Linked DNA regions of Homo sapiens. The protein of the gene in region 2 purifies or fractionates together with the protein of the main gene of each other region. This does not show direct contact. Each region holds a gene or a part of one and is shown on either strand. Other genes may lie near its edges.

Evidence for each region.
Region 1: the proteins of HM13 (region 2) and ATP2B1 fractionate together in Homo sapiens (co-fractionation; one large-scale study listed by BioGRID). This does not show direct contact.
Region 3: the proteins of HM13 (region 2) and CMTM6 purify together in Homo sapiens (affinity purification with mass spectrometry; one large-scale study listed by BioGRID and IntAct). This does not show direct contact.
Region 4: the proteins of HM13 (region 2) and MGAT5 purify together in Homo sapiens (affinity purification with mass spectrometry; one large-scale study listed by BioGRID and IntAct). This does not show direct contact.
Region 5: the proteins of HM13 (region 2) and VKORC1L1 purify together in Homo sapiens (affinity purification with mass spectrometry; one large-scale study listed by BioGRID and IntAct). This does not show direct contact.
Region 6: the proteins of HM13 (region 2) and CLPTM1 purify together in Homo sapiens (affinity purification with mass spectrometry; one large-scale study listed by BioGRID and IntAct). This does not show direct contact.
Region 7: the proteins of HM13 (region 2) and ODR4 purify together in Homo sapiens (affinity purification with mass spectrometry; one large-scale study listed by BioGRID and IntAct). This does not show direct contact.

Annotation. Positions count from the first base shown.
Region 1 is NC_000012.12:89,586,781-89,590,977, reverse strand, and holds the end of ATP2B1 (plasma membrane calcium-transporting ATPase 1), read left to right. Parts: 3' UTR 1-2,929; downstream 2,930-4,197. UniProt on the Homo sapiens protein: Catalyzes the hydrolysis of ATP coupled with the transport of calcium from the cytoplasm to the extracellular space thereby maintaining intracellular calcium homeostasis.
Region 2 is NC_000020.11:31,562,310-31,566,861, reverse strand, and holds part of HM13 (signal peptide peptidase), read right to left. Parts: intron 653-4,552; coding exon 567-652; intron 1-566. UniProt on the Homo sapiens protein: Catalyzes intramembrane proteolysis of signal peptides that have been removed from precursors of secretory and membrane proteins, resulting in the release of the fragment from the ER membrane into the cytoplasm.
Region 3 is NC_000003.12:32,492,239-32,496,790, reverse strand, and holds part of CMTM6 (CKLF-like MARVEL transmembrane domain-containing protein 6), read left to right. Parts: intron 1-4,552. UniProt on the Homo sapiens protein: Master regulator of recycling and plasma membrane expression of PD-L1/CD274, an immune inhibitory ligand critical for immune tolerance to self and antitumor immunity.
Region 4 is NC_000002.12:134,340,430-134,344,981, forward strand, and holds part of MGAT5 (alpha-1,6-mannosylglycoprotein 6-beta-N-acetylglucosaminyltransferase A), read left to right. Parts: intron 1-1,160; coding exon 1,161-1,330; intron 1,331-4,500; coding exon 4,501-4,552. UniProt on the Homo sapiens protein: Catalyzes the addition of N-acetylglucosamine (GlcNAc) in beta 1-6 linkage to the alpha-linked mannose of biantennary N-linked oligosaccharides.
Region 5 is NC_000007.14:65,945,442-65,949,993, reverse strand, and holds part of VKORC1L1 (vitamin K epoxide reductase complex subunit 1-like protein 1), read right to left. Parts: intron 1,324-4,552; coding exon 1,214-1,323; intron 1-1,213. UniProt on the Homo sapiens protein: Involved in vitamin K metabolism. Can reduce inactive vitamin K 2,3-epoxide to active vitamin K, and may contribute to vitamin K-mediated protection against oxidative stress.
Region 6 is NC_000019.10:44,957,779-44,962,330, reverse strand, and holds part of CLPTM1 (putative lipid scramblase CLPTM1), read right to left. Parts: intron 369-4,552; coding exon 256-368; intron 1-255. UniProt on the Homo sapiens protein: Involved in GABAergic but not glutamatergic transmission. Binds and traps GABAA receptors in the endoplasmic reticulum (ER).
Region 7 is NC_000001.11:186,381,950-186,386,501, reverse strand, and holds part of ODR4 (protein odr-4 homolog), read right to left. Parts: intron 3,481-4,552; coding exon 3,346-3,480; intron 515-3,345; coding exon 419-514; intron 1-418. UniProt on the Homo sapiens protein: May play a role in the trafficking of a subset of G-protein coupled receptors.

The DNA.
Region 1 (4,197 bases), on a different chromosome or scaffold from region 2:
GCTGAATGTTAACACACTAGCTGCATTGTAAAGAAACAAATTGAAACTGGGTCTTTTCACATATTGTGATGGACAAGCTAGTATTCTTGTCTTTGGACTTCAACAGAAGACACACTTGTACGAATGTAGATTTATTTTTTTAAAAAAAAAAAAGCAAAGCTTTCTGCCAGACTGAGGGTGCTTTTTGGGGGGTGGGAGAAATGAACTGACAGATAAACAGTAACTCAGCGTAAGTGACCTGTGGATCATCAGTAGTACCCAAGCATGGTCCTGAACAGTGTATTAGCAGAGCTTTAGTTTATCTCAGTCCTGGATGGGAGAGAGAGGGAGGAGTAAAACTGGGCAAGACAAAGAGCCCTGGATCGTTGAATTGATAGTTTAATTTCTGCTGTTGGCTGTTAATAATTTGGATTATTTATGTTTATAAATGATACAGATCTGTTTACAAGGTTTGTAGATACTTTTTTTGTTCCTGTTCATAGATGGGAAGCTTCCTTATAACTGATGCAGAGAAAAATTAGTCCTTCAAATACTGCTGTATTTTCAGGAAAAAAAAAAAAAGGGGTGTTTCTATTGAAACTGTACTAAATTTTTGCCTACAATTTACCTTGTTAAATATTGTAGATAAATTGCTAATACTAATAGCCAAATAGATAACACTAATGCTTTGTTTAAAAAAACGAAAAAAACAAAACAAAACAAAAAAACATGAGCAGTGGTGTTCTAATGAAGTTATGACATCTGTCCTAATTAGTTTCTTAAATACATTTACTACTTAATGGTTTTGAAGCAACTGTTTAATTTTTAAAATTTTTGAAAACTTGCTAATAACCTTTTGTTCAGAATTTAGTAGATTGTTTAATGCAGGACATCAACTACATAATGAAAGATGCTTGAAATGCTTTTGTTATTTCAGGCAAATCAAATTAAATCAGACTATCAAACTACAAGAGAACCTTAGTCTTTTTTGTTTTTGTCTAAACATGTTAGTTTAGTGATGTCTTGGTGAACTGTGAGTGAACTGTATTGATTTTTCTAATCTTTAGAGACCTTCACACAGCATGAGGGCTGTTGGCATTTTGAAAAAGGTTAATAAGTAGAAGCATACATGTTTTCCTTTTGTTTTTGAAACTTGTTTGTAAACATAAATAAATATGCCCTTTTATTAAATAAATTCATGGCAATGTTTTTTTAAAAGACATTTCAGCTTCTTTACTCAGTTCTGCATATACAGTGCATCAGTCTGTTCTCTTTGACCACAATTGGAATACATTTCAAGATGGTAACAGCCCCATGAAGTACCGCTTTAATTCCTTGCTGGTAATCTAATAGAATCAGATTAAGAAAATTAACACAATTTTACCATTTGACATACTCTTCATTGAATTTAGTTTGTCTAAAATAGTCTCACAGGTAAAAAACATAACAACAATGACCACCATTGTCTTTGATACATTTATTTTAATTCTTAAGTGGCCAAATAACAGATTAGGTAAAATGAGATTACATGAAAAGGTTCTAAAATGATATATTTAGATGCAATAATTAACCATATGCTAGAATGCCCACCTCTAAGCCAATTGGATTCTTTAGCTCTCTTTTTCTTTCCTTCATCTACCTTCTTCTCTTTTTTGCCTCTGTCTTTACCCTTTAGAAACTGGCATGTGTTAGGGCCCAGATTTCACCAGATACACAATCCTCAGGCTGACATAAAGTTTACGAGGACTGCTACTATAACTGAGAGTGCTGACCAAGCAAAGAAACATTTAGTTGATGGTGCTTGATATTTTTGGTGGGTGGGGGAAATCTTTTTCTCACCATCAAATCTTTGCAGTAATCCTCTGCAGGTCTTAGAAACACATTGGCTCTGTCAGCATTTGTAATTGTACATTTATTCATCAGGTATTTATAGTGAATCATACTGTAAAAAAGAGGTAGCATGATATGCTGGAAAGCATATTAGACTAGGAGTCAAGACCTGGTTTCTAGTCTTGGTTTTGCCATTAATGTGCTGCATGATCTTGGGAAAATCATTTACCCTAAATAAGGGTGGTGGACTATCTTGAAGAACCCTTTCAACTCTAAAAATTGACCCTATCAACTGGAGAGCCCACAAGGCATAGGGAATAGAGAAAAGGGAAATGTTTTCAGTTTTCTTTTTTATTTTGGTTATGCTTAAATATGAATGTAATTACCAAAAGATTTAGAAGTGCATGTGCTTTGGAGGATTTGTATTGAGCTTTTACAGTATTCATTTTTCAACTCAAGGCAATGGCTTTCTACACCAACTCTAATCCATAAACGGGTCTTATGACATCTATGAAGTAGTAGCAAGACATGCTTAGTGTGTATTTCTCTCTTTGAGACACTGTAATTTCTACCAGAAATTTCCAGAGCATTATGTAGGTAGAAAAAAATGCAAGCAAGCTGTTAAAGATCTTGGATCCCATTATATAGTATGTATAGCTGAAATCTGTAATTCAATCACTTTTTCTCTTTTATCCTCTAACCAAAAAATTGTTTAATTTTGCATCCCAAATGTTTTTAATCTTTGTATATTTTTTAAAAATCCTTTTCTCCTCATCATTGCCTTTTTTGTGGTTGTAAATAGACTTACTTGCACTTTGAAGATGAGTTACTCCTTGTCATCTTACAAATATGTGATATGGTAATTTTCATAACAGATGTCAGTTTTGAACCAAGAATTGGTGATTTGTTTATAAGAAAAAAACTGGCTTCATTTCTGTGAAATTGCTCTTTGAAAATTTCTTTTTACACGTGTAAGCCAACTGAGATACCGTGATGGTGTTGATTTCTTTCAATGATGCTTACCATCTATTTTAGCCACTGAGCCTTTTATTATTTGTCTATTTGTAAAGTTTATTTGTCTTAACTCATTTAATAAATATACTGTTTATCTGTTTCTGAATGGGGACTGAACTTTTTGGATATTGATATTGATTTGAAAATATTTTGGAATTTTTTCTACTTGAAATTTTAGAAATCTAATTGAAAATTCTATAATGTACTTGAAATGTTATGGTTGTGTTACAGTGAATCACTCTTCTAATAATATGCATGATCTTGCCTCTAAAATGAGAGTGGGTACATTGTCCCTACTCTCCAACCCACTGTCCTCAACCCTTATAGCACAATAGATCATTTCTGCAGTCTATGGGAATGTAATCTGCTGGTTTTAGTACAGATTAGTTTTTCACATTAGCTGTAAGAGCTTATTTTTATTTCATTATCCATACTTGTCAATACCAGTTATCTGAACTCTATGGTAAAAATTAATAAAATTATCCATAGTTGTTTTTTATAATAAGTTATTAATATAAACTAGCAACTTTGTTGAAATACTGAGTAAACTTTAAATGATGATGAATACCATATTTTTCAGTTAGTATAAATCATTAGTAAATTATTGAGTATACTTAAGTACCATATTTGTGACATGAAAGATATTTTCCATTTTGTCAAATTGGGTTTTATATATATATTATGTATTAGAATTGAATTTTGAATTAAGTTCTCTTTGTAAAAAATTAGCTGAGAAAGAAAGGGGAGTTTAAGCCTTTGCATGTTGACATTGTTCCTTCCCCGCGCCTTTAAGATTGTGTCTTATTGCAGCTGCCTTCTTTCTTTAACCTGTGCTACTCTAAGACTCTTATGCTCAAACCCCCATCAACTTTTATCTTTTTTAATTAGTCTGTTAACACTCATTTATAGACCAAAATAAAAGATATTATTAATAGCATAATTATACTACCTCACTAAAAATCTGAAAAATAATCTTTCTTTTAGAATAAGTGTTTTTATACCATAAAGACTGTTTCATGTGGTCAGGAAGTTGATAGTTGTGTTTCTGTACTTTTCTTCATCAGTATGTGTCACAAAAGCCAGGCATTGTGGCTCATGCCTGTAATCCCAGCAATTGGGGAGGCCAAGGCTGGACAATCATTTGAGACCATCCTGAGCAACAAAGCTAGATCCCCATCTCAACAACAACAACAACAACAAAAAAATATATATATATATCTAGTGGTGGTGCAAGGTGCAGGTAGTCGTAGATACCAGAGTGGCTGAGGTGAGAGGATCTCTTGAACCCGAGTTCAAGGCTGCAGTGAGCTGTGATCACACCACTGCACTCTAGCCTGGGAAAGAGTGAGACCCTGTCTCAAAGAAAAAAAGGAA
Region 2 (4,552 bases):
GGGCTGTGTGCAGGGTGTGGTAGGTGTGGATATGGCCCTGGGGAAGGGGTATCTGTGTGAGATACAGATATAGAGAAAGCAGTGAGCTGTGGGTTAAAGCCACAGAGGTGAATGAACAGGGACTGACACCTGCCTTCTACTCGGGGCACTTTCTACCACACTAGGGCATCCCACACGCCCCCTGTTCTATTACTCACATGTGAAAACTGAGGCCATGGGAGGGGAAGACATGCCTGAAGTCACCTGGGGGCAGAGTCACCTAGGACTTCTGACAGTAGGCAGAGAAAAATCCACAACAGCTATTCTTAAGATCCAGCTAACATTTGGATGGGGGATGCCTAGAGGGCTCTGATGCCTTGCGCTCCCCTGGCTCCTGGCCCAGGGTAAGGTTCCCACTGGTGTCCACAGGCCAGGTACCCATGTACTGCTGAAAAAGGCAAGGGGTGGGGCTGGTGGCAGGAACAATGTTCCCCTGGAGAGGTGTAAAGATACCCCCAGCAGGTTCCACTGACTGCCAGCAGGCACACTGGTGCCCATGAGGACATCTGCCCCCCACTCTGCCTTACCTGAACATCTCTGTCACTTCTCCCTTGGCCAGCGCCACCAGGACAGGAAAACCGATGCAGGCGGGGACCAGGTATAGGAGGGCAGGCTATGAGAGGACACAGGCTGGTGAAGCCATGCTGGGCACGGCACTGCCTCAGGGCCGTGCCCAGCACCCCAAACCCCTTCTGGGCTGGACTGAAGGACAGTGACTGGTCCAGGACCATAGCAAGTCAGTGGCTGGGCCTGAACCCAGGGCTCCTAACTCCCAGACAAGGGTTGCTCCTCCCGAGAGGGAATGCAAGAAAACTAAGAAACTCAAGTAGGCAGGGCTTCAAGGGTTCCCAGGGGTTTGGCTGGCAGCATCTGAATCACCTAGGTCACCAGGTTCAAAAAGCAACTTCCTGGTTTGGTCCTACTCCCAGAGACTCTGCTTCCTGAGGTCTGGGGCTCACACCTGCATTTTAGCAAATGCTCCAGGAGATGCTATTATAGTGATGATGACACCACAGCTGCTATGTAATAACTACTTGTTGCAGCCTGTATTAAGGTGACCTAGCTGGTCACTGGCTCCCCCAGGATTCACACCCAAGCAATTTGGCATGTCTGTGCTGAGACTCCTGGTAAAGCTGGGTTTGGAGAAAAGGACGGTTATACTAAGACCCTGTTCATGAACATCTACTGTGCAGGCACTGAGCTTAGCCTTCCCAGGAAGTCAGCCCACTGCCACATCCCATGATGGTTATCCTTTTGCAGAGGAGGAAGACCAATGCTTCACAAGGAGAGGGAAAATAGCCCAGGACTCAGAGACCCAAATCTTTTTTTTTTTTTTTTTTTGAGACAGAGTCTCTGACTCTTGTTGCCCAGGCTGGAGTGCAATGGTGCAATCTTGGCTCACTGCAACCTCCGCCTCCAGGGTTCAAGCGATTCTCCTGCCTCAGCCTCCTGAGTAGCTGGGACTACAGGTGCCTGCCACCACGCCTGGCTAATTTTTGTATTTTTACTAGAGATGGGGTTTCACCACGTTCGCCATGGTGGTCTCGAACTCCTGACCTCAGGTGATCCACCTGCCTCGGCCTCCCAAATTGCTGGGATTATAGGCCTGAGGCACCACGCCCAGCCCAAAGAGTTTCTTTCTTTTTTTTTTTTTTTTGAGATGGAGTCTGGCTCTGTCACCCAGGCTGGAGTGCAGTGGTGTGATCTTGGCTCACTGCAAGCTCTGCCTCCCAGGTTCACACCATTCTTCTGCCTTAGCCTCCGGAGTAGCTGGGACTACAGGTGCCTGCCACCATGCCCGGCTAATTTTTTTGTATTTTTAGTAGAGACAGGGTTTCACCGTGTTGGCCAGGATGGTCTCGATCTCTTGACCTTGTGATCTGCCTGCCTTGGCCTCCCAAAGTGCTGGGATTACAAGCGTGAGACACCGCGCCTGGCCGAGTTTCTTTTCTTTTCTTTTTTTTTTTTTTTGTGATTTTGAGATAGAGTCTTGCTCTGTCTCCCAGACTGGAGTGCAATGGTGCGATCTTGGCTCATTGCAACCTCCGCCTCCTGAGTAACTGGGATTACAGGCATGCGCCACCATGCCCGGCTAATATTTGTATTTTTCAGTAGAGATGCGGTTTCACCATGTTGGCCAGGCTGGTGCACTTGAGTTCTTTCACATGGAGTCAGGTCCCTTGCTACGTGCTCTGTAAGTCCCTCTAATTTCCCTCACAGCATTCCTCAGCAATTTTTTTTTTTTTGAGACAGGGTCTCACTTTGTCTCCCAGACGGAAGTGCAGTGATATGAACATGGCTCACTGTAGCCTTGACCTCCTGGGCTCAAGTGATCCTCTCGCCTCAGTCCTACAAGTTGCTGGGCCTACAGGTGTGCGCCTCCATGCCTGGCTAATTTTTGTATTTTTTGTAGAGACTGGTTGTCACCATTTTCCCCAGGCTGGTCTTGAACTCCTGAGCTCAAGTGATCCACCTGCTTTTGCCTCCCAACGTGCTGGGATTATGGGTGTGAGCCATCGTGCCTGGCCTCCCCAGCAATTTGTAATGGAACATCCCCATAGGTGGTGAGTTCAGTGAGGGCGGGCCCACAGCTGTCTTGCTCACCGTAGTGTGCCCTGCATACTGAAGAGGGCCTGGTAAATACTCAGTGAATGGCTCCTTCATGGTGCGTCTTCATGGGTGCTCATGAAGTGAAGAGATTGTCCTGGAGAGGGTGAGGAAACTTCATTCTTTTTTTTTTTTTTTCTGAGACAGAGTTTCCTTCTTGTTGCCCAGGCTGGAGTGCAGTGGTGCGATCTCGGCTCACTGCAACCTCCGCCTCTCAGTTCAAGCGATTCTCCTGCCTCAGCCTCCCAAGTAGCTGGGATTACAGGCATTCTCCACCAAGCCCGGCTAATTTTGTGTTTTTAGTAGAGATGGGGTTTCTCCATGTAGGTCAGGCTGGTCTCAAACTCCCGACCTCAGGTGATCCACCCACCTTGGCCTCCCAAAGTGCTGGGATTACAGGTGTGAGCCACCACGCCTGGCCGGAGACTTCATTCTTAACGTAAAGCCAGCCCTTGGCCAGAGAACAAAGAAGTCTTTCCCGCATGCCCTTGATCCTAACATTCAGACTTATTTCTTGCCATCTGTCATAGGTGGGCTGTGATCAATACTGCTTTATGTATATTAAATTATTGAATCTAACAATCCCTAAGTAGGATGGGTGTGGTGGCTCACGCTTGTAATCCCAGCACTTTGGGAGGCTGAGGTGGGCAGGTCAGTTGAGGTCAGGAGTTTGAAACCAGACTGGCCAACATGGTGATACCCTGTCTCTACTAAAAATATAAAAATCAGCTGGGTGTGGTGGTGCACGCCTGTAATCCCAGCTACTTGGGAGGCTGAGGCAGGAGAATTGCTTGAGCCCAGGAGGCGGAGCTCCAATGAGCTGAGATCACACCACTGCACAAAGGCAGAGGTGACCCTTACCTAGACCAATGCTAGCACTGGGACTACCTGTGTGTTGGAGAGCAGGGGACCCCATGGGACAGGGTCCCCTCATGTCCTGGATCCCCTTTCCAAGGATTTTCAGAGAGGTACCCACTTGGATGACTGGGGAGAAGGGCTGGGCTGCTGCTGGGGAGTAACACAGGCCTTGGGGCAGGGTTCAGGAGTTCATTAGTCTGGAGTCCAGATCGCCACCCAGGGCCCAGCCTGATGTAGTGTTCGCGTTCTCTCAGCGCTGCAGTTTTCCGATAAAGGAGAGGACTCCTGTGTGCCAGAGCTCTGAATGGGAGCCTCTTCTCAGTCCAGCCAGGCAGAGGGTGAGGCTGCCACCTTATGGCCACTGGGGGAATTGGCTCTGGGCTTGGACTCCAATAAGGGGCCGGGAGCTGCAGAGACCTCCAAAAGGTCTCTTAACTAGTCCTCCAAACCAGGTCCAGTCACTCTCTGTGACCCTTGCCATACGCATGTTACTCTCACCTTACACGCCATTGAAGCCCTTGAGCAGAAGTGAGAGGCAGTTCCACAATGGTTGTTCTTGGTTTTTCTAATTATGGGCTAGGGGCCTTTTGACCTTCTATAAAGTAATACTGTACTAGGACTAAATGAGTTATTAGCAAAAGAGTTTAGCACAGTGCCTGGCACAGAGTGATTAAAAAAACCCCAGCTTTTGTGATTAATTCAAAGATGGCTCGTCTGTATTTGGGCCCTGGGGAAGGGGAAAGGGGACAGAAGCAGCAAGCCCAGAGTTCCATGGTTACTGGGTGGTGCTGGGATTCACAACAGGGCTCCCTTAGCCCCTGTTCAATGCTGCGTTTCCCATGGCCAGGGCTTGAGAGCCTGGGTGTGGTTTCCATGCTGACCCAGGTTTGAATCCTGGCTTTACCACATACTTGCAGTGTGTCACCTGAACTCCAGTTTCCCCACCTGTTCACAAGGATCCTCATGAGTGCAGAGCCTGACATGTGGAAGTGCTTAACAAACAGGAGCTCTTATTATTTCCAGTAGAAAGTAGGGCAATCCTGTCTGC
Region 3 (4,552 bases), on a different chromosome or scaffold from region 2:
TATGTTCTTTTTCATCCTCCACCTAGAATTAGAATGTCCTCTGTCTATCCAGGTTCTGTTTGTGTCTCTGCCTGGTTTGAGTCCTGCTTTTCCACTCATCCTTCTCCGGCTCCTTCGAACATTTTCTTGAGATTTTCTAACCTACATATAATGAATGCTCAGTTAATGTGGTATAAAATATATTGTTATTATTGTTTCTTGTACATTGAGCTTATTACTCCATCATTTGTATCTTCCTATACGTAGAACAGTGTTGGAGTGTTGCTAGTTCAAGTACACTTTGAGCTAGCAATTGCATAATGCTGTGGGAGCTTACAAAGGTTAGTAGCCTCAGAGATGGGTAGGCAGAGAATTTTTTTTCTTTTTTTTTTGGTAGAGATGGGGTTTCACCATGTTGCCCAGGCTGGTCTCAAACTCCTGAGTCCAAGCAATCCTCCCGCCTTGGCTTCCTAAAGTGCTGGGATTACAGATGTGAGCCATCGCATCTGGCCGACAGAATTTCATATTGACTATAGCTTGTAGTGCCAATTTGTTGGCCTTTAACTTGAGATGGGAGCTAGTAAATGTCCACACTTTTTTTTTTTTTTTTTTTGAGATAGTCTCGCTTTGTCACCCAGGCTGGAGTGTAGTAGCGCCATCTTGGCTCACTGGAACCTCTGCCTCCTGGGTTCAAGCAATTCTCATGCTTCAGCCACCCAAGTAGCTGGGATTACAGGCATGCGCCACCATGCCCAGCTAATTTTTCTATTTTTAGTAGAGATGGGGTTTTGCCATGTTGGCCAGGCTGGTCTTGAACCAGGTTGGCCAGAAGGCCTCAAGTGATCTGCCCGCCTTGGCCTCCCAGAGTGCTGGGATTACAGGTGTGAGCCACTGTGCCCTGCCAGATGTCCATACTTAATATTGTACTCCTTGATTCTCTTAAGATGTCCAGGCAGAACCTGCTTCCTGCTATTGCTCTGAGGCAATAGGTCAGTAAGGTCAGTAGGAATGCCACCTGTTAATACGTTTGGAATAGGACTTGTAATGACTTGAGACTGACTGCTTCTGGACAAGCTGGATCCTGTCTTTTTTTACTGAAAGTAGACAAGCAGCCTATGTCTGTCCTACAGATAACCTTTTATTGCCATATAGCCTTCACACATGAGTGTGCCTAATAGTCTAATTGTAAAATGAGTGGTTCAGCTATTCCCAGACCCTAATTAGAGTTTTAGGCTGGTATCTTCTCTCAGTTAATTGACTTTTATACAACCGAGGTATATTTTGTAAATTTCTCAGAGAGAAACTTTTAAAACTTGGACAAGATTTAACATAGAGGCAAGAAAAAGGCAAGTGAAATGTTAGATATTTAGTATTTTATTAGACTATAGTCATGTTAGAACTCATCCTGTAAGTATGATTATAGGAGACTAAGGAAGTATCTTTACACAGTGGCCCTCTGGGATTTATCTTGGTGTTGTCACTTTATATCCTGTGGTGTAATGATTGGGAATGCCTTACCTAACACCTGTCTGAAGGAAGTTGTTTGGGACATGCTGGGCTATTTCATGCTTCACTAACTTACAGGAAATCAGAGAATGTAACCATTCATGTTACAATTAGACTATTTTTTTTCTTTTATATAAATTCTTTGCAGTTGTGGGGATGTATACATTTTGTATAGCCAGTAGAAGGGAGAGGAAATCCCTTAAAGGTTTGGATACCAGTATAGATTTGAATTACTATTTTTTAACTTTTTATTTTGAAATTATTATAGATTCACAGGAATTGCAAAAAAAAAAAGTACAGGGAGGTCCCACATTTGTATGTGCATGTGTGTGTAATTCTATGTAATTTTACCATGTGGATAGCTTTCTATAATTACCACCACAATCAAGACACAGAACTGTGCCATCAGCAGAGGCTTCCCTGTGCTACCCCTTTGTAGCCACACCTTTCCCCTTTCTCTTGGCTGCCACTAATTTGTTAGCCATCATTATTATTTTTATTATTCTAAGAATGGGCTATGAATGGAATCATGCAATATGTAACCTTTTGAGATTGGATTTTTTTTTTCCTTTGAATAATTCTCTGGAGATTCATCTAGGACATTACATATATCAAGTTTGCTCCTTTTTATTGCTAATATTCCATGGTATGGATGTACCACAGTTTGTTTTAACCATTGGACATCTGGAATGTTTCTAGTTTGGGGCTACTATGAATAAAATTGTTATAAACATTCACGTACCGGTTTTTGTACAAATGTTAAGTTTTCATTTCTCTGAGATAGTTGCCCAAGAGTTCTATTTCTGGGTCATATGGTAGATATATGCTTAGTTTTTAAAGAAACCGCTGAACTGTTGTTTGTCCCTTTTTAATGAAAATGTTTTGTAGGATAAGATATTTACTATTACTATGAAATGTATCTGTTGATTTTGGTAGCAATCTTGTTGCCATTAACCTGTCTGGTTGCTTCTACTGGCCTGACTGGAGTGAGAAGGGAATTCCCTTTAGCCTCTGACTTAGGTCATCAGTCATTTTGATGGTTTCGGCCCTCAGCAGGAAATTCCCTCAGCTTCCACAAAACCCACACAAACTGCCCAAGCAAAATACTCTTCTTCACTCTCTTCCCTTCTATTTCTAGAGAAGAGTTAGCCCCAAACCTGAGCCCTGAATCCTATCTTTAGAGAGCCATTTTTCTACCTATGTCTTTAGACCCACCCATCTTACTGGTTTCTGCCTAAGTATTTAAACATGCTCAGTTCTCCCATGTTGAAATTCCCTTCTCTTTGACCTCATCCACTACTGCCCTATCTGGCCATTCTTTCCCAGCCACACTTATTGCCTATGCTGTCTCTCCTTCACTGCCTTACCCTCCCCTTACTTCCCAATATACAGTATTGTAATCGAGCTTCTCTCCCTGACTACCCTGGAACTTTTCTTGCTAATGTCACTGGCAACCTTCTTATAGCTCAGTCTAAGGTAGGTGTTTCAGTGTTGTTCTTACTTGACCTTTAAGTAGCATTTAGCACTCTTGATTACTTGTGTGTTTGTGCATGTGTGTGTAAATACTTTTTTCTTGTTTACTACCCCTTTGATTGCTGCTGCTAGTTGTCCTTTGCTGGTTTCTTCCCCTCTGCATATCCCGTAAATCTTCAGATTCCTCAGATTTCCACATAAGGCTATCTTTCCTCATTTGAGTCATCTCACCCTCCCACTCTGCCAGCTCCCACATCTTTATCTGCATCTTAGACCTCTCCTTTGAGCTCCAGACCTTATATTCATTTGCTTTCCAACTACATCTTCACCAAACTCTTCCACAGACCTCCTCAATCACAGCATATTTAAAACTGAATTTCTTCTCTCCCTAGCACCCTTGCCTTTTAAAAAGAAAAAAACCTGACTCTTTTTTCAGTGAGGACCAGTATGTTAGTACCACATATACAGCAGTTGGAAGTAGTTAAAACCCACTTGCGTGTAATTGAGTTGCCAATTTAACCAGAGTTAACATTCTCCACTCACCATACCAAGCATCCTGACCTCACACCAGTCACCCACAGCCTGCCATGGCCAGTAGGCATCTCATTAGCACTCTAGAACTCTTGCTTCTGTCATCAGTTGAGTTGTGTTGTTCCCATACTGGTTTATGCTAACTATACTTTTATGGCCATACAGTTAAATATTACAAAGCTGAAACTGAGTGTTAAAATGAATTGTTTCTTTAAAACTAAATTGAATGCTTTGGAAAGACTGAAAGATAACTTACTACAAGATTTATCTGCCATGGAATTAAGGAAGAGCAAGGCAACTGTAAAAGGCTGGTAAAATAGTCTGACTCTAGAAAGATTCTGAACTCTGTTTCTCAAGTGTTTAAGATCTCACTTCACTTCAGATAACATCAGTCTGGAAGTAGTAGTCCATAGATGATGAAAGTGATTAATGCAGAAAACATGTGGAATTCGTCAGTAGACCCATAAAGAAAATACTCACTTCAGCAGATTGTTAATAAATGTGCGTTTTTAAGTTAAAATGTTTAAGGTACACATGTGTTATCTTGTGTTCCATATTATTTGTATGCATCTTGTCTGATATGAGCTTTTGCATCTTGTCTGATAAGAGCTTCTGCTGCATCTCTCAGTGATTGCCACTCTTCTCTATTGCTGCTCCCTAGTCGCTATTATTTGCCCTGATTTCCTACATCAGCTTCCCAGTTGGATGTCCGCCCCAAGGTTTGCCTTACCTCTGGTCCCTTCTCCATATTGTAGCCAGTGAGAACTACTGAAAGCATACACCTGATCATTGTCAACCTTTACTTTAAAATCCAGACTCTTAATTAACGAGGACATTTAGATCTGGCCTCAGCTTACCTCTCTAGCCTCATATACTAATTTTTGTGCTGCCATTCTCTTCCCTTAAACTCTATACTTAAGCCATGTTGATTTGACTCACTTTGACAGTTAAGTTGGAGGTCGGGGTGTGTGTTGTCTGTATGTTGGGTCAGAGGGCAGGTGCCATGCTCCCTCATTTCTGGCCTTTCTATATACTGCTTCTCTGCTGGGAATTTCTTTCCTTA
Region 4 (4,552 bases), on a different chromosome or scaffold from region 2:
CCTAGATGGGACAATTGGATAGTCAGTGAGAGGAATATCCACAATATTTTGAAGCATATCAAATATGCTTTGATGTCATAATGATTTTTTAAATTAAAAATCCTCATAGATCATCATTAGAGTAGGCTAAAGAACAAGTTTATTATTCTGAAAAACTGGCAAATGAAGAGAAAGAATCAAGTATTTACCAGGCTCCTTCTTTACAAACCTTAGAGTTACCTCAGGGTGACCAAATGGTTGATGAGGGGTAGTTTCTCTTTATAGAGAGGTATTATTCCAGCTAATAAACAAAGAAGGAATGGTAAAATATCATCATTTTGCAGTCCGTAATGGATTAATGGATCTAGCTAGTGACCATCCAGGACTGCTAACATCCCAAGACAGAGACACCTGTACATTGTTTTCTATGAGGCCAAGAGACATATGAGGCAATTATTACGTATGCTCTCTGACTCTTGAATCACACAGGTGCATTTAGAAAAAATAAAGGGCAGTTGAAGAAGTATGAATATTAACTGGATATCAGATGATGTTAAGGAATTACTAGGTTTTTTAGGGATAATAGTGATGTTCAAGTTATATTTTTCAAGTGAAGGTTTGTTCCTTTTAGGGATACATACCGAAATATTTACAGATGAAAGGATATGTCTAGAATTTGTTTTGAGATAATCTAGAGGGGTTGGGAGAAAATGGGGGTATAGATTAAATATGCATTAATAATTGTTGAAGCTACACAGTAATTACTTTGGCATTGACTATATTGTCATGTTTGCCTTTCCATGTGTTTGAAATTTTCCATGGTAAGAGGTTAGAAGTATTTTAGCTGTAGATAAAAGACCAATAGTGTTAGAAAATACTGTCCTGTCTTACCTTCCTTTAATCCCGATTTTACAAATACACTGTGCTTTTAAAAGGTGGAATTATCTGTCCATACCTTGTACTCATAGCCATACCAAGGGCTGCAGTGATTTTGTTTCTCTAAAACCACAATGAAAAATGATTTCCTTCCTTTGTACCTTCTAGAAAAACAGCATTCCCCACCCTTTGATTTTGTTAGGATGTAAACATGACTTTGGGATTGGTCAATCATTTCTTGGCGCATTACTGTGCCTTTTGTATGTGGTTCAGTGTGAATCAGTATATGCCTCTTTGTTTTCCAGGTCCTCGTTCACCTGGGACTCCTGACCAAGGAATCTGGATTTAAGATTGCAGAGACAGCTTTCAGTGGTGGCCCTCTTGGTGAATTAGTTCAATGGAGTGATTTAATTACATCTCTGTACTTACTGGGCCATGACATTAGGATTTCAGCTTCACTGGCTGAGCTCAAGGAGTAAGGAGATTACTTTTCAATTTTAAAATCAGAATACAAAAAAGAAATTGTAAACTCTTAAAGTATTACCTCTATTAGTGTATAATTTTTTGTCGAGGAAAATGAAAGTGATAATTCACTAAACAGGAGATAAGAAGATTATTTTCAGGAGCTAAATACATACACTGTGAAAAGGATAATATGTTTTCATTGTCGCTGAAGGCTCCAGAGGCTTCATAAATGAATGCCAGAAAATTCAAACTAAGGAGCTTATTCTTTGCTATTACAGGTGCTTCCAACATCTGGAGCACAAAACATTATTGACTTTCCTAATTCCCTGTCTCTTGCTGAAATTCATACCACTGCCTACTCAACATCAATCTTGCTAAATCTTGAAACAGGGCAGGTTCCTGTTTGTAATTCAATTTGGATAGAATAAATTTCCTGAAAGCCCTGAGCTGATCCTTTTTCAATTAGCCAACTTTCAGCTGAGTCTGTTAACTCTACTTGGGTTTTTCATTTCACTGAAATTTGCTTCTAGCTCCAGCCCTCCTGTAATCCCTTCTATATTGGCATAGCTGGCTGAGCAGGGACGCTTCCATCCCCTGCAGTCACTTAGGATTACTGCCCATGGAGACTTCCCACCCAACAGTCAAGTTGCCATGTTGCTATATGTCGTATATTTCCAGAAGGAATACCTTGAATGAACATTCTAGAGCTCATTGAGATGAGAGACATGTTAAAACAATATATGGTGGCTCCCAGCACTTCGGGAGGCCAAGGTAGGTAGATCACTTGAGGCCAGGGGTTCAAGAACAACCTGGCCAACATGGTGAGACCCTGTCTGTACTAAAAATACAAGAATTAACCGGGTGTGGTGGCCCATGCCTGTAGTCCCATCTACTCGAGAGGCAGAGGCTGCAGTGAGCCGAGATCATGCCACTGCACTCCAGCCTGAGTGACAGAGCAAGTCTCTGTCTTAAAAAAAAAAAAAAAAAATTGGATACACAACCTACAAAGTGGCTGCATTTATACAGTTAGCAGTCACTCATCTGGTGTCTTCTGTAGGCTAGTTTTGGTGTCGGGCATACAGAGATGGCCAGCTTGTGGTCAAAGATCTTGCTGCCAATCTTTTGATAATTACAACTAATATATTAAAAATAATTACACAAATTCCAATTCTATTGGTGCTAATTGAGGTGTACGTGGATGCTAGAATGTAAGCACTGGGATTGCAGAAAACTGAGTATCGTTTGTCACTGTGTAGTGGGCACCTAGATAGTGCCTAGCAAGTAATGAGTACTCACATAACTATTTATAGAATGAATGAGTGAAGGAATAAATAGGTGAATGAATGAGTGGGTAGGTAAATAAATGGAGTGCTGTGGTAGAACCAGGGACAAGTACTGCCTGGGGAGGTCAGGAAAGACATGTTAGGGATTTATCAGTCAGAGACTGAATTTGATGGTCAAGGGAAAATTTGTTCAGTATGTCCTCACTTAACATCGTTGATAGGTTCTTGGAAACTAGGACTATAAATGAAATTATGTAAAATGAAACCAATTTTTTTCATCAACATTATAACCAGTGATTTGAAGGAAATGACTTTATTGGAGGGCCTGCTATCTGTTGTTTTGTTTAAAGTCCCAGTTTTCAGGAACCTATTGATGATGTTAAGTGAGGACTTAATTCTAGTAGTCTTTATGCACACTGGGGTCAGGGCTAGATGTGTTTTGTTTAAGAAGATAATTGTGGAAGCAGTATAGAGCAGTGGTCTTTAAATATATCTGTACGTTAGAACCACCTGGAGATCTTTGTATTTATTTCTTAATTTTGGGGGATCTTTTAAAAATCCCATAGACCATGCCATAGGCTAATTAGATCACAACCCTTGGGGGTAGGACACAGCCATAAGTATTTTGTGATGCCTCCAGGTAATTTCATTATACAGACAAGTTTGGGAAACACTGAACATGGGGTGGACCAGAGATCAGCAAACTATGGCTCAGCAGGCCAAATCAGCCCTCTGTCTTTTTTTGTAAATACAGTTTCATGGGAACACAGCCATGCCTATTGTTTACGTATCATATATAGCTGTCTTCATTCCACAACGGGAGAATGGGCCAGTTGTGACTGAAAATGTATGGCCTGCAAAGATGAAGATAATCACTGTCTGGCCCTTAACAGAAAGGGTTTTCTGACTCTTGGGAGGAAACTGGTTCTGCAGAACCTAGTTCTTTCATAAACAGGGGAGAGGAAGAAGGGTGGCTGATGTGGTGGTAGTACAGAGCTGTCAAGCAGAGTCCTGTTTGTGACTCTCGTCCTTTGAAGCAGGATATCCATAATTTGGTGAAGGATTATCATGGGGTGTTGCAGATAAGCAACAGTGGTGACTGATTAGTGAGTGGATGGCAGTAGGGTTAGCACTGACTCGTTCCTACACATGAAGTTGGCCTACCAATCAAGTACATCGTCACGCTCTGAGCGCAAGTATGGTTTTGTGTGGATGGATGCATGGGTGGGGGAAAGGGTGATTAAAAAAAACTGTAAACCATAGTGCTAGTTCTGTAATATGGTCAAGCGAGGAGGAAAAATTTGACATAAGAGAAAAAGTTAAGGAACAGTATGAGGCAGGTAGAAAGAAGTTAATACTATAGAGGCTAGAAATTGAAGACATTTAGAAAAAGGGGAGGGGAAGGTTAGTAAGGGTGCTAAGCGGTAAGAACAGGCTCTGGGGGAGAAAACTAAGTTATTGAGTATCTAGTATTCATTAGGCACTTTCTTTTCAATATCTCATTGTGAAGAACCCCTGAGAGACTGGTATCCAATGTTCTTTGTATCCAGTCCTTGTTTTCTGGAAGATGAGCAAAGAGATTGAGAGAGGTTAGGTAACTTGTTTAAGGTCTCACAGCTGCTACATAGTGGTGATGGAGTCAGACCCATATCTTCCTTGATTTCAAAGACTGTGTTTATATGCCACCATTTGCTTTTGCAAGAGTCAGAATCAGGGTACTGGGTTGGCCTTAATGGATGGAAATAATTTATATAGGTAGCAGATTTGAAAGGGCCATGCTGTCATCTCTAAAAAGGATTTTTGGGGTGGCATTTGCCCATTAAAGTTGCCAAGTTTATTACCTTTTAAGTAAATGATTTTTCTCTTTTTTCTCCCCTCTCTTTTGCCGTTTCTCTAGAATCATGAAGAAGGTTGTAGGAAACCGATCTGGCTGCCCAACTGTAGGAGAC
Region 5 (4,552 bases), on a different chromosome or scaffold from region 2:
ATTGAAAATATCTGTGTTTTTTGATACTATGCTTGGAAATTTATTTTGTGGAGATAATTCAAAGGAAGGAAGGAGCAGGAGGTCTTTAAACAAAGTTGATCACTGCAGCATTATTTGGAAGTAAAAGGAGTGAAACCTAGATGTTAACAATAACACTTAGGATAAACGACACTATGTTGAAACACAGTTCACATTAAATTATTAGTTTTTGAGACAGCGTCTTGCTCTGACCCCCAGGCTGGAGTGCAGTGGTGTGATCTCGGCTCCCTGCAACCTCCATCTCTTGGACTCAAGTGATTCTCTCACCTCAGCCTTTCAAGTAGCTGGGACTACAGGTGTGTGCCACCACACCTGGCTAATTTTTGTATTTTCTACAGAGACAGAGTCTCACCATGTTGCTCCTGGGCTCAAGTAATCTGCCCTTCTCGGCCTCCCAAAGTCCTAGGATTACAGGTGTGAGCCACTGCACCTGGCCCCAAGTTATTATTATTATTATTATTTATTTCTTTTTTGTGAGACGGAGTTTCGCTCTTGTTGCCCAGGCTGGAGTGCAATGGCGCGATCTCAGCTCACTACAACCTCCGTCTCCCGGGTTCAAGTGACTCTCCAGCCTCAGCCTCATGAGTAGCTGGGATTACAGGCATGCACCACCTCGCCCAGCTAATTTTGTATTTTTAGTAGAGACAGGGTTTCTTTATGTTGGCCAGGCTGGTCTCGAACTCCCAACCTCAGATGATCTGCCTATCTTGGCCTCCCTAAGTGCTGGGATTACAGGTGTGCACCACCGCACCCAGCCCAAAAATTATTTTTAAAAGCAGAAGACTGTGGAAATAGTGGATATGTAAAGGTAATGGGATTATGAATATGGTTTCTTGTTAATGTCCCCTTAATATATGATATTTTTCAAGGCCACTGAGTCTATAAAATAAGGAAAAACGTTAACAGGGAAGATGGGAGTGATAATTTCCTGGAATGGGACTGGTTTTTCTGGACATCATGAGATACTGCTCTCCATGATTAAACAGCAATTGACATAAATTCAACAATAATATAATAAAAATCTCAGTGAATCAAGTTTTCATAACACAAAAATGTTGTACACGCTAGTGGTTCTATAAATAACACATGCTTTAACATCAAGACACTTCAGGGCAAAGACACAAAGTACTAAACGGAATATAACAAACTTATTTTTGTATTGATAAATACTTACCAAGTAATAACTGTAGTATATAAAATATAAGTCCAAAGACACTGTTTGGCTGGTTTAATACACCATCCTTTCCAAAAATGGAACCCAAAAGACCAAATCCTCGACCCCATCTGTAAAATAAGGAAAACCAGTAACCCTATATTTGAATTTCCCTATTTTAAAAAATGTATCATTATTTGAGAACGTTATCCAATTCTAAAATCAACTAAGTTGTGAAATGTCTTAAATGTCCTGTGTTGAGAGAGTGATTTGCCCCAAAGAGAGGGAGGCCAGTCACTAGATTTCTGATTAGAAATAATCATCTAAAATGAACATATCTAAAGGTGCCAGTATACCCATCTGAATCTCTCAGTTGCCAATTTCTATATATTCTCTTCTCCAGAAGGTAGGGCAAAGTATTCGTTTTCCAATGGCATTAGTATTTGCAGAAGGAGACTTCTCTATGCAGAAGGAGACAGTTGTCCACTGTCTCTTAACAGTGGACTACTGACATTTTGGGCTAGATAATTCTTTGTGCTGTGGGGTGTTCTGTGCATTACATAACTAACAGTACCCCAGAGCTCCCCCAACTAGATGCTGCCAGTACTCCTCCATCCCAGGTGTGACTACCAAAAATGCAGTCACAGCCATTGCCAAACATCCGCTGGGACACGACTGCCCCCAGTTGAAAACCATAGAATGTAAGTTGTGCTATTTATTCACTCAAAGAATATAGATTGAAAAGTTGTTTCTTCACAAATTTCACCAGGATATGCATTAAGAAATATACTGGGAATGTATTTTTTAAATGTAGGGCCGGGCCCGTGGATCACACCTATAATCCCACCACCTTGGGAGGCCGAGGCGAGCAGATCACAAGGTCAAGAGTTCGAGACCAGGCTGGCCAGCATGGTGAAACCCGTCTCTACTCAAAATACAAAAAATTAGCCGGACATGGTGGTGTGCACCTGTAATCCCAGCTAGTTGGGAGACTAAGGCAGGAGAATCACTTGAACCCTGGAAGCAGAGGTTGCAGTGGGCCGAGACTGCACCACTGCACTCCAGCCTGGGCAACAAGAGCAAAACTCCATTTCAAAAAAAAAAAATGCAGGATAATATCAGAAACTATAGGTCTTTCCTGGAATCCTATCTCAGATGTAAAAAACTGGATACATTATATGCCCTATCAGTTTTTATTTGCAATTTAACTTTAAATCTTGCATTTGACTTAACATTTTTAAAACCTGATTTTTTTTAAATTGTTAACTTATTTGATAAAACTTGATACAAATATCAAACATTCATTTTGAATAAAAAACCTTTAAAGATAATGTTAACTCTGGATTGAACGAGAGTGCTTCTTAAATACTAAAAAAAAAAAAAAAAACCAGTTATGGTGTTAAGTCAGTAGAGAATCAGTCTAAACAAAATCTAAACTTTGGTTCTGAAGACAAACTGCCCCAAAGCAAGGATAAATAAGTAATTCTTCACAGGCCACAATAGTTTAATAGCACTTGATGCCCAAGATATAGAATGAAACCCCTGTATAACGATGATGTTGGGAGAGAAAAATCACCCCGATTTTACAAACAAGTGAAAGCCATGAAGATTTTTATTGTAGAATTATGCAATCCTTTTTGTTTGTTTTGTTTTGTTTTGTTTTTTTGAGACAGGATGTTCCTCTGTTGCCCAGGCTACAGTGCAGTTGCAATCATGACTCACTGCAGCCTTGACCTCCGAGGTTCAAGTGATTCTCCTGCCTCAGCCTCCCGAAGTAGCTGAGACTACCACACCCAGCTATATATATATATTTTTTTTTTGGTATTTTTTTATAGAGTTGCAGCTTTGCCATGTGCCAAGGCTGGTCTTGAAGTACTGGACTCAAGCAATCCTCCCACCTTGGCCTCCCAAAGTGCTGGGATTACAGGCTGAGCTATGACACCCAGCCTTCAGTTATACATTTCAAAGAACATAAAATAATTTCCATTATATTCATTTATTCTTTCACTCATCTAAATACTTATTGAGCATGTACTGTGTGCACTGACGCTACGTGCCGGGGATCCAGAAGTGAACGAGCCAGACGAGGTGCTGCCCTTGTGGACCTTAAATTCTATTTAGGGAAGAGAAATAATAAACAGGTAAACAAATGCCAGATTACCTGCAGCAATGGACACACCTTGTAACAGATACACAGGAAAATTAGAAGGGGAAACTCTAGATCAGTGCTTCTGAAATTTTTAAAGCACAATCACTCTGGGGTCTGGTTAAAATGTAGCTGTTCCTTCAGTGGGTCTGTGGTGGGGCCTAAGACTCTGCATTTCCAGAGAAAACACAACACAAAATGAAATGCTTGCAGGCAACACTGACGCTTCTGGTCTGAAGCCCACACTTGGAGATCCATAGCTGTGGGCAGAGAAGGGGTGCAGCAAGCTCCTCTAGCTTGATGGTCGGGAAGGACCTTTTCCAGGAATGAAGTTTTGAATGAGATCCTGAGTGATGGTAAGCAATCGGTCTCATGAGCAATGGCAAGTCAAAGGCCTTGAGGTAGGAATGAGCTGTGGGTGTGCCAAGGAAGGCCACTGAGGCTGGGGCATGGTGATTGAGGAGAGTGACAGGAGAACTGGGAGCGAGTCCAATCATTTACATTATTTAGGGCCTTGTGTGTAGGCCATGCCGAAGAGTTTGAATTTTATTCTAATTGCTATGAAAGACGTTTAGTAGCTTTCAAACTGGAGAGTGAGATAAGCTTATTTATGATCACTCTTCGCTGCTGCATAAAGAACAAACTGCTGGAGGCCAGAGTACAGATGGGGAAACTATATGTAATCAAACCTCTTAGCCCTACTCATCCCAGGCAGGAATTCCAATTTAAATCACTGCCTTTGGCAACAGAAATAAATGGCATACTGCCAAAATTATCATGGCTAAACAGAATTTTTATATATTCAAAGCACTGGTCTATGCCTGATTATTCATGTAAGATCACATGGGTATTTTCCTCGAAAACAATGTGGCAATCCACAAATGAATATATTATCAAAGTTATACATGCATAAGGTTTCAAAATAAAATAAAATCAAAGCCTTCTAATACAGAGATGTTCCCTCCTCCAGCCCTCCCCAAGTCAGTTCTCATCCCAGAGGCATCCACTTTGATGTCTGTTAACTGTTTCCACCTTTTTTTTTTGAGACGGAGTCTCATTCGTGTCGCCCAGGCTGGAGTGCAGTGGCGCGATCTCGGCTCACTGCAAGTTCCGCCTCCCAGGTTCAGGCCATTCTCCTGCCTCAGCCTCCCAAGTGGCTGGGACTACAGGCGCCCACCACCATGCCCAGCTAATTTTTTTGTATTTTTAGTAGA
Region 6 (4,552 bases), on a different chromosome or scaffold from region 2:
GTGTTTTTATTTTTTCACAAATCAGGTAGCCCCCCAAAAACCAGAACAGGTTCAGGGAGACTCCCTACTTCAGTATGTTTTACCAGAGTAAAAAAAAGGTTTAGAAAACATTCCATCATACAAAAAAAAAAAGAAAAAAAGCAACTCTACCATACAGTAATGATCACCATCCTCAGCTGATCAGCTGACTTTTCCTTTCTTCCTTATTTTTATTTGAATGTTTTCGGTGAACAAACCCAAGTCCCGTCTGCTCACCTAAACAGCACACCTTTGATGACCTGCCAGGCATTGGGTGCCGGCTGGGCCGGTGGGTTCTGAGGCTGGGTCTCCGCTGGCGGGTCCCTCCCGATGCTGCCATTGCTGGTCACCTGTGGGGGACAGAGGCCAGGGTAAGGAGGGAGAATGGACACGGGGGCTGTCTTAGACACCATCATGCATGAAGGCCAGGCACAGGCTGGGCAAAGAGTGGGTGCTTATCAATAACTGGAGAATGAATCAGTGAAAACACCTGGGAAGGTGCGGTCCTCTTCTTTTAGGAGGAAAACACTCGCAGAGCACCTCTGTGACCTAGGGACAGTGGTGACCTAGAGAGTCTTTTGCTGTCCTCCTGGGGTTTAACAGCCCGGTGGGGGAGAAAGATTCATCTCTAGACAGTGACTGTCCAGAACGGGGCAGGAATGCAGGAGCCCTGAGAGGCACCTGGTCCAGTCTAGGGTTCGGGGCAACTTCCTGGAGAAGGGGGCATTGAAGCTGAGACCTAAAACATAGCAAGTTGGTGGCACAAAGGAGGAAGTGAGAGAAGCAGCAGGTGCAGAAACAGAAGATTAGAGGCACAGTCTGATTCTGATGACTGTCCACTGTTCCCTGGGGCTGGAGCCAGGATGCAAGGAGGTGGCTATTGGGGACAACAACAGAAGGAGTCTTATGGCAGGTGCCAGATTCTTCAAGGCTGGGGCTTAGCTGAAAGAGCCTTCCCTGGGCAAACCATTCCTGAGGCCCCCTCTGTGGCCAACCCTGCCCTCCAAGGGCCCCTGGTCCAGCAGGTGGGACAGACACAGAAAAACACAACCAGACTATCAGCTGCTACCATAAGCCACGGCCACAAGACATGTCTGTGACAGCACACAGCACACTAATCCTGAGGCCAAAACTATGACCAGCTCCATCCGGCTGCTGAGCAAAGGGAGGCTCAGAGAGGTGAAGCCACTTGTCTGGTCACTCAGGAAGGACCGCAGAAGCAGAATGACAGAAGGGAAGGGGGGCAGGCAAGGGAGCCAGGCACGGCTTCCCAGAGGAGGACTCTTCACTCAGACACAGAAGGTCACAATCAGAGACTCTCTGAATGCCAGGTTTGGAAGGGGATGTTCTGCTCACCCTTCACGCACCCTGCTAGCTCCCCAGTCCTGTTCTCATTCACCCCTCCTCCCAGCTGTCCCCTCAGCCATCAGCCTTCAAGAGGCAGGACCAGGGCTATCACAGTCACAGTTAGCTCAAGAGCACCAGTGGCACAGAGCAAGGCTGTGATAAACACCTGTGTGGCCACCGCTGCCTGAAGGACTCACCCCGGACGCTCAGGTCACCCAAACCCACTTCCCTCTGAGGCTCCAGTGTCTGGCCCTCTCCTCCACAGCCCCTAGTCCACTCCTCTGCAATGTTTTCTCCATTCACCTTACCCACCAGATAGCAAATGTCCCAGGAGCATGGTTAGAGGGGCTACATGTGTTAAATGTGTCACTTGTCACCTCCTGTCCCCTTCACCAGCAAGAGCTCTTTCCTGTAATCTCCCAAAGCACAGGACACCATTGGAGGGGCTCCAGGGTCAAACAGACCTCAGCTATAGTCCTGGTCCCACCGTTCTTGGCTGTGACACCTTGGGCACATCACTTCACCTCTCTGACCTGTGGACCAGGTTGTGAAAATACTGGAACATTTTAGACAGAAATCTGGGCCCTGCTTACCCAGAGCTGGGGATCTAGAAGGAAACACACTAGAACGGTAAACAGGATAATTAAAAATGGTACATGGAAAACAAGCAGGGGGAAGTGACAGCAACTGAGTTGGGAACAGGGATCCACTTTGGAGTGGGTGGTCAGAGAGGCCTCCCTGAGGAGCTCCCTTTGACGTCTGGGTCGTCTGGGTGAGACCCTTAGGCTGAGACAGAGAAAGCCACATTCTGATGAGGAGATCTATGGGGCGGGGGTCGGCTGGGGAAGGGAAATCAGACAGGCACAAGGCCCCCTCCTCAAGGCCAGCCTAGCTATTGGGAAATTTAGGGGTCCAAGTATGGGTTTCAATGGGTCTGAGCTGATTTGGGGTCAGGAAAGGACACTTGATGCCAGGTCAGGATTTGAAGCTGCATCTGACTGACTCCCAGGTCTCTTCGCTTACCCGTTAGTGATGGGCAATCTGGCTGGGAACCTTCCCACGGAAAGGCAAGTTAAAACCACAATGAGGTGTCACTTCACACCTATTAGGATGGCTATCAGCAGAAAGACAATCACAAGTGCTGGCAGGGATGTGGAAAAACAGGAACCCTCGTATGCTGCTAGGGGGGAAAGTAAAAGTACAGCTACTTCGGAAAATATGGCAGTTATTGAACAAGTCATATGTGCACCTACTACACAATCCAGCAAACCCATCCTGAATGGCTACCCAGGAGGCAGAAAACATGAAGCCAGACCAGGCGCAGTGGCTCACGCCTATAATCCCAGAACTTCAGGAGGCCAAGGCAGGAAGACTGCTTGAGCCCAGGAGTTCAAGACCAGCCTGGGCAACACAGCAAGACCTCATCTCTATAAAAATACAAAAATTAGCCAGGTGTGGTAGTGCATGCCTGTGGTCCCAGCTACTCAGGAGGCTGAGACGGGAGGATCAATTGAGCCTTGGAGAATGAGGCTACAGTGAACCAGGATCACACCACTGCACTCCAGCCTAGGCGACAGAGCATGACTCTGTCTCAAAAACAAACAGTGGCCAGGTGTGGTGGCTCATGCCTATAATCCTAGCACTTTGGGAGGCCAAGGCAGGAGGATCCATTGAGCCCAGGAGTTCGAGACCAGCCTGAGCAACACAGGGAGACCCTGTCTCTCTTACTTAGAAAAAAAAAAAAAGAAACAAAATACAGCCACAGAAAAGCCTGTACATGAATGTTCATAGCAGCATTATTGGCAACAGACAAAAACTAAAAACAATCCAAATATCCTTCAAGGACTGAAAGAATAAACTGTGTCATGTCTGCAGACTACCACTGAGCAGTGAAAAGGAACAACTGTGAGCACGTACTTTAGGATTTCCCCAAAGGCCAAATTTCCCTGATCCTAGGTTGTAAAAAATAAAATAAAAATGAACAACTGCAGATCTATGTAACAACATGAACCTCAAACCCATTATGCCCAATGAAAGAAGCTGGACACAAAAGACTGGATGTTGTTTAGATCCTTGTTTAAGACATTTTTAGAAAATTACAGAGATAGCACCTCTGTGGCTGCCTAGGATTGGGAGCAGCAGAGACTGTAAAAGGGAACTTTTTGAGGGGACAGAAGCTTTCTCAGACCAGACTGTGGTGATGGCTGCACCACACAACTGCATAAATGGACCAGGAGCCAATGGACTCTATCCTAAGAACAGGTGAACGTTATACCATCTAAATTATACCACAAGGCTGGACGTGGTGGCTCACGCCTGAAATCCCAGCACTTTGGGAGGCCGAGGTGGGCAGATCACCTGAGGTCAGGAGTTCAAGACCAGCCTGGCCAACCTGGTGAAACCCTGTCTCTACTAAAAATACAAAAATTAGCTGGGTGTGGTGGCAGGTGCTTGTAATCCCAGCTACTTGAGAGGCTGAGGTAGAAGAATTGCCTGAACCCAGGAGACGGAGGTTGCAGTGAGCCGAGATTGTGGTGAGAAAGCGAGACTCCGTCTCAGAAAAAAGAAAAAAAAAAAAAGAGTCACTCTTTTCAGCTCCTATTTCCCTCAGAGTAAAGGCCAAGTCCTCCCCATGGCCTCCAAAGCTTGGCATAATCTGCATCTGTCCCCAGCCACCCCTCTCCCCTCACCCGCTCCAGCCTCCTCGCCCTTCCTTCATCACACCAGGCACCTCCCACTTTAGGGCCTTCGCACTGGCTGCTCCTTTGCCTGAAAAGCTTTTCCCTCGTGTATCTTTGGGACTCCCTCTCTCACTTCCTTCAGGTCTTTGTTCAAGCGTCACCTCCTCAGAGAGGCCTTCTAGACTACCCTATTTAATTGCAACTCTTCTACCCACCCCTCACTTCCTATCCCCATCCCAGCTTTATTTCTGTCCATGGCACGCAGAGCCATCTGAACTGCTGTTTTTCTTATTTATCTTGTTCACTGTGTGTCCCTGTCTGTGCTTCCCCTATAAATTCAGCTCCAACTAGAACATAAGTGTAAGGGCCTTCAAGAGGGCAGCACCTATTTTATTCACAGCTGTATCTCCAGCATCAGCAAAGGCCTAGCATGGAGTAGACTCAATTCGCATTCGCTGAAGGAAGGAATGGCAAAGCTGTGGGTTCTGTGTCCGAGTTCCTGGCTA
Region 7 (4,552 bases), on a different chromosome or scaffold from region 2:
TATTTTACAATGAATTATTTGTTTGCATAATTTACATGGAATTACTGTCATTAGTCATGGTTATTATTGAGAAGTAAATAATTTAACTTTTTAACTTGAGGAAAGAATAGCTTTTTCAAATTTGTATGAAATGCCATATGGGCTGATGATAGCCCTGTTTTGGGTAGTGTACTAAATAAAGAATAAAATTACCCATGGAAAAAATAATAAATAAAATGTGTAGTTTTTAAAAATATAAACATTTTTTACACTCAAGATATCCAAGCAATTGAGTGACAAAAGCTTTTTCAATGTAACCCCAACAAAAAGAATTATGGAAAACAAATGTAAATATGCCTAGAATCATTACACATACTCATAATCAGTAAAAATAACATATAACTGATTTCATTAAGAATTTTCGATATATCAAACTTACTCTACGCAGGGCATTTTGAAAATCATTTGCCAGTTCTAAAGTAGTAATAATAAATACTCCAAGAACTAAAAGTCCCCCTGGTAGCATTCTGGATACCTAAAAATAGAAATATATTATTAGCTAACAAATTGGCATTATATGCAATCCTTTCTGTTTGAGAAACTGTCTGCTTAGCATGTCCTTAGCTTTTCACCTTAAAACTACTTTATAAATAAAACTATCTGATAACAACATCCTTTAGCTACATCAATAAATAAATCCTTTTCTCAGGAGATCAAAGACTGAAATATTTTTTCAATGGCGTCCCACCATCAGCTAAATAAAATGAAGTTTTATTTTAGATTGATATTTCAGACTTTCTAGGATCTGGTCAATGATGTTTATACCCTCATTTGACACTACTTTTCCTCAAGTAATTCAAATATTTGTCAAAAACTACTTGAAAAGTAGTGTCAAATGAGGCTATAAACTGTTTTCCATACACATCCTAGGCTTTCTAACTATGTGTCTTTACTCAGGGTGTTCCCTAGGCCGAAACTGACTTTTTCTTATACTTCTGCATGTCTCAACCCTACTGGATACTTCAAAGGCAGCTTGAGGAAGCTGCCTTCTCTGATCTTTTCATCTCTGAACTCCGACAGGGCTTTGGTGTAGTTTTCCCATGGATTTTATCACATAGTCTTATATCATAGTTATCTGTGAACCCTACTAGTTGGTCAGGGAGCTCCTTAAGGGAATAAGTAATTCTACCTCTGTATCCCTATTTTTAGCAGCATACTAGATCTGGAATTTGAACAGAGGGAGTCTGACTTGAAAATCCATTATTTTCTATTGCATAGATTAACCTCAAATTTTTAAGCCCACTTACTGATACTGGGCATCTTTGCTATATCTAATTTTACCTTAAAATAATATTGATTAAAAATCCTAGTACATCTTTCTGCATTCATAGAATTATTTGTTTAGGACAAATCCCTTGAGGTGGATAACTGGTTTAAGAAGTTATACATATTTTTAAGGTTTTTGATACATACTACCATGATATCTCCATATCTGTATTTCCCTTCACATGATTGTGGCTAGTTCTTAATACCACATGGATTTTTTTCTATCATCTACACTCAGAGATTAGAGTGTTTTGGTTAGCTTTTGATTACTTAATGTACAAGCAATCAATCAGAGTACAGTCTTAGAAAATTAGGTACCATGCTCTAATCCTTAATCTACTTGCACTATGTCTTTCGGTGTTTTCCTCTGATTTAATAAATTCTATTTACTATAGTAGCACAATTCTGACAAATAAAGTTTTCATATTTAGCATAAGGAGCCTGCATATCTTTTCAAAATCACCAACACAAAAAAGTAACCATTTTTTAGGAGATGGAGGTGAGAGCAAGAAAGGGGAAAAAGTAAAATTAACCTTTTCTTTCTAGAGGTAAAAGGTTAAGCTAATTTACTATATAAATTCATTAATATTCTGTGTGTGTGTGTGTGTGTGTGTGTGTGTGTGTCATATACAATTTTATGAGAGACCAAAAGCAAAATTAGAGTAGAAAGTTATTTACAAACCATTGGGAATTTAACTTTACATTACTTAATATTTTCTTTAGAAGATAGTTGCCATGTTTGTCCCCTTAAACACCATGTTGAAATGTGAACCCAAGTGGGGCCTAATGGAAGGTGTTTGGGTCATGGGGCAGATCCCTCATTAATGGCTTGGTTCCATCCTCAGAGCAGTGAATGAGTTCTCGCTATATTTGTTCCTACGAGAGCTGGTTGTTAAAAAAAAAAGCCTAGCACCTCCCAACCCCTTGCTTCCTCTCTGGCCCAGTGATCTTTACACACCAGCTCCAATCTGCCTTCTGACATGAACAGAAGCAGCCTGAGGCTTTGACCAGATGCTCAATCTTGCAGCCAGCAGAATCATGAGCCAAACAGGCCTTTTTTTCTTTATAAATTACTCAGTCTTAGGTATTCCTTAATAGCCACCCAAACAGACTAAAACAATAATAATTAAATACTGGATTTCTTCGTTTTGTTTTGTTGAGACAGAGTCTCGCTTTGTCGCCCAGTCTGGAGTGCAATGGTGTGATCTTGGCTCATTGCAACCTCCGCCTCCCAGGTTCAAGCAATTCTCCTGCCTCAGCCTCCCAAGTAGCTGGGATTACAGGCACCTGCCACCACACCTGGCTAGTTTTTCATATTTTTACTAGAGACGGGGTTTCACCATGTTGGCCAGGCTGGTCTTGAACTCCTGACCTCAGGTGATCCACCCACCTTGGCCTCCCAAAGTGCTGGGATTACAGGCAAGATTTTATTTTTTTTTTAAATATAACTACACACTGCTCCATAATCAAACACATACACAGACACAAATATATGTCCATATATATATATATATATATCTACATACACAGAAACACGTTTGAGTTTAAAAGATTTAAAGATTTAAAGTTGATTGGAAAAGGAAATAAATCTTTTATTTATTAAAGAAAATTCTTTTTCTTAAAACAAACAAACAAAAACGCAGAATGTGCAAGTCTGTCACATAGGTTTACGTGTGCCATGGTGGCTTGCTGCACCTATTGACCTGTCCTCTAAGTTCCCTCCCCTCACCCCCAACCCCAGAAAAGGAAATAATTCTATTTTTACCTTATTCTAACATTATTTATTTGATGATATATAATTCATTCAATAAATACTTGTAAGTGAATTAATTTAGTCATTATTCCCACTCACCCATCCCAAATCTGTTTCTTCCTCGTGTAATGCCAACAGTATCCTCCTAGACACCCAGACTAAAAATCTCAGTCATCTTTAGCTACTTTCTCCCTATGTCTCTTCTCTCTACTCATTCACTAAATCTTCTTGATTCTAGCTCTTTTTTGAAATAAAACTTAAACATATAAACAAAAAAATAAGATAACCTGGCAGGCATGTTCTGTGGCCCATTCTTCATCCAAGTTATCCAACTTAGCTTTGGGATGTTTGAGGTTCTCACTTTGCTCCTCTTTGGGTGGCGTTCTAGTGGCAAGAATCACATAATCCTTTTGTGACGAACACTTCAACAACAAATTAAAAAGCTTGTTAGAGTGATATCTGATTCCTCAATCTAATTAGAGTGATACCTAAATTCCTTAGCTTTTATGACATGCAAAAACTGAGTAATATTTGTAACAGGTTAAATCATTAATACCCACATTATAATGGAAGCTAAAGGGAAGCTAATTTTCAAGGATGGCCTTACAATCTTTCCCTCACATGTTGTTTATCTTTTAATGTATTTAATATCAGCTTCTTATTTATTTGGACAACTCAAATGTAAATCATGGAGTGGTCCCTAAAAATGGTTTACTGGATGAGTGAATGAATTACATTAACTAAAAAGTAATATGCTTATTCAGTTTTCTAGTTATATTTGTTTTATAAGTTATAAATGAACAGATCGGAAAATATTAGTAAAATGAAACAACAAGTGACCTTTTGTATCTTATTTTAATTGAAATGATGACAGTAGGGAACTTCCACATACATTTCCACAGAATAACAAAGGGGATTTGGGACACAATTTAAAGTGATACAGATTCTATGTTCCTCAAGTTTTTTGTTTTGTTTTGTTTTTTGTTCTTTGTGTGTGTGTGTATTTATTTATTTATTTAGAGACAGGGTCTTGCTCTAATGCCCAGGCTGGAGTGCAGTGGTGTGATCATAGCTCACTGCAACCTTGCACTCCTGGGCTCAAGCAATCCTCCCCCCAAGTAGTCTCCCAAGTAGCTAGGACTACAGGCTCAAACAATCAGCCATAATGCCTGGCTTTTTTTTTTTTTTTTTTTTACTTTTTTGTAGAGACAGAGTCTTGCTATGTTGCCCAGGCTAGGTCAAACTCTGACCTTCAAGCAATCCTCCCACCTCGGCCTCCCAAAGCATTGGGATTACAGGCATGAGCCACCACACCCAATCTGTTCTTCAGCTGTAATATCAGTTAAGTAGTAACCAAAGTTGGGAGATCTAAAAATAAATGTAGGGGAACATTCAATAGCTCAGTTTCACTACAGTGAAAGTTTCCTATAAAAAAAGAGTGAAAATAACACTGCTAATGCAAGTTAGCATTGTATCTTCCCCACACATGACCTG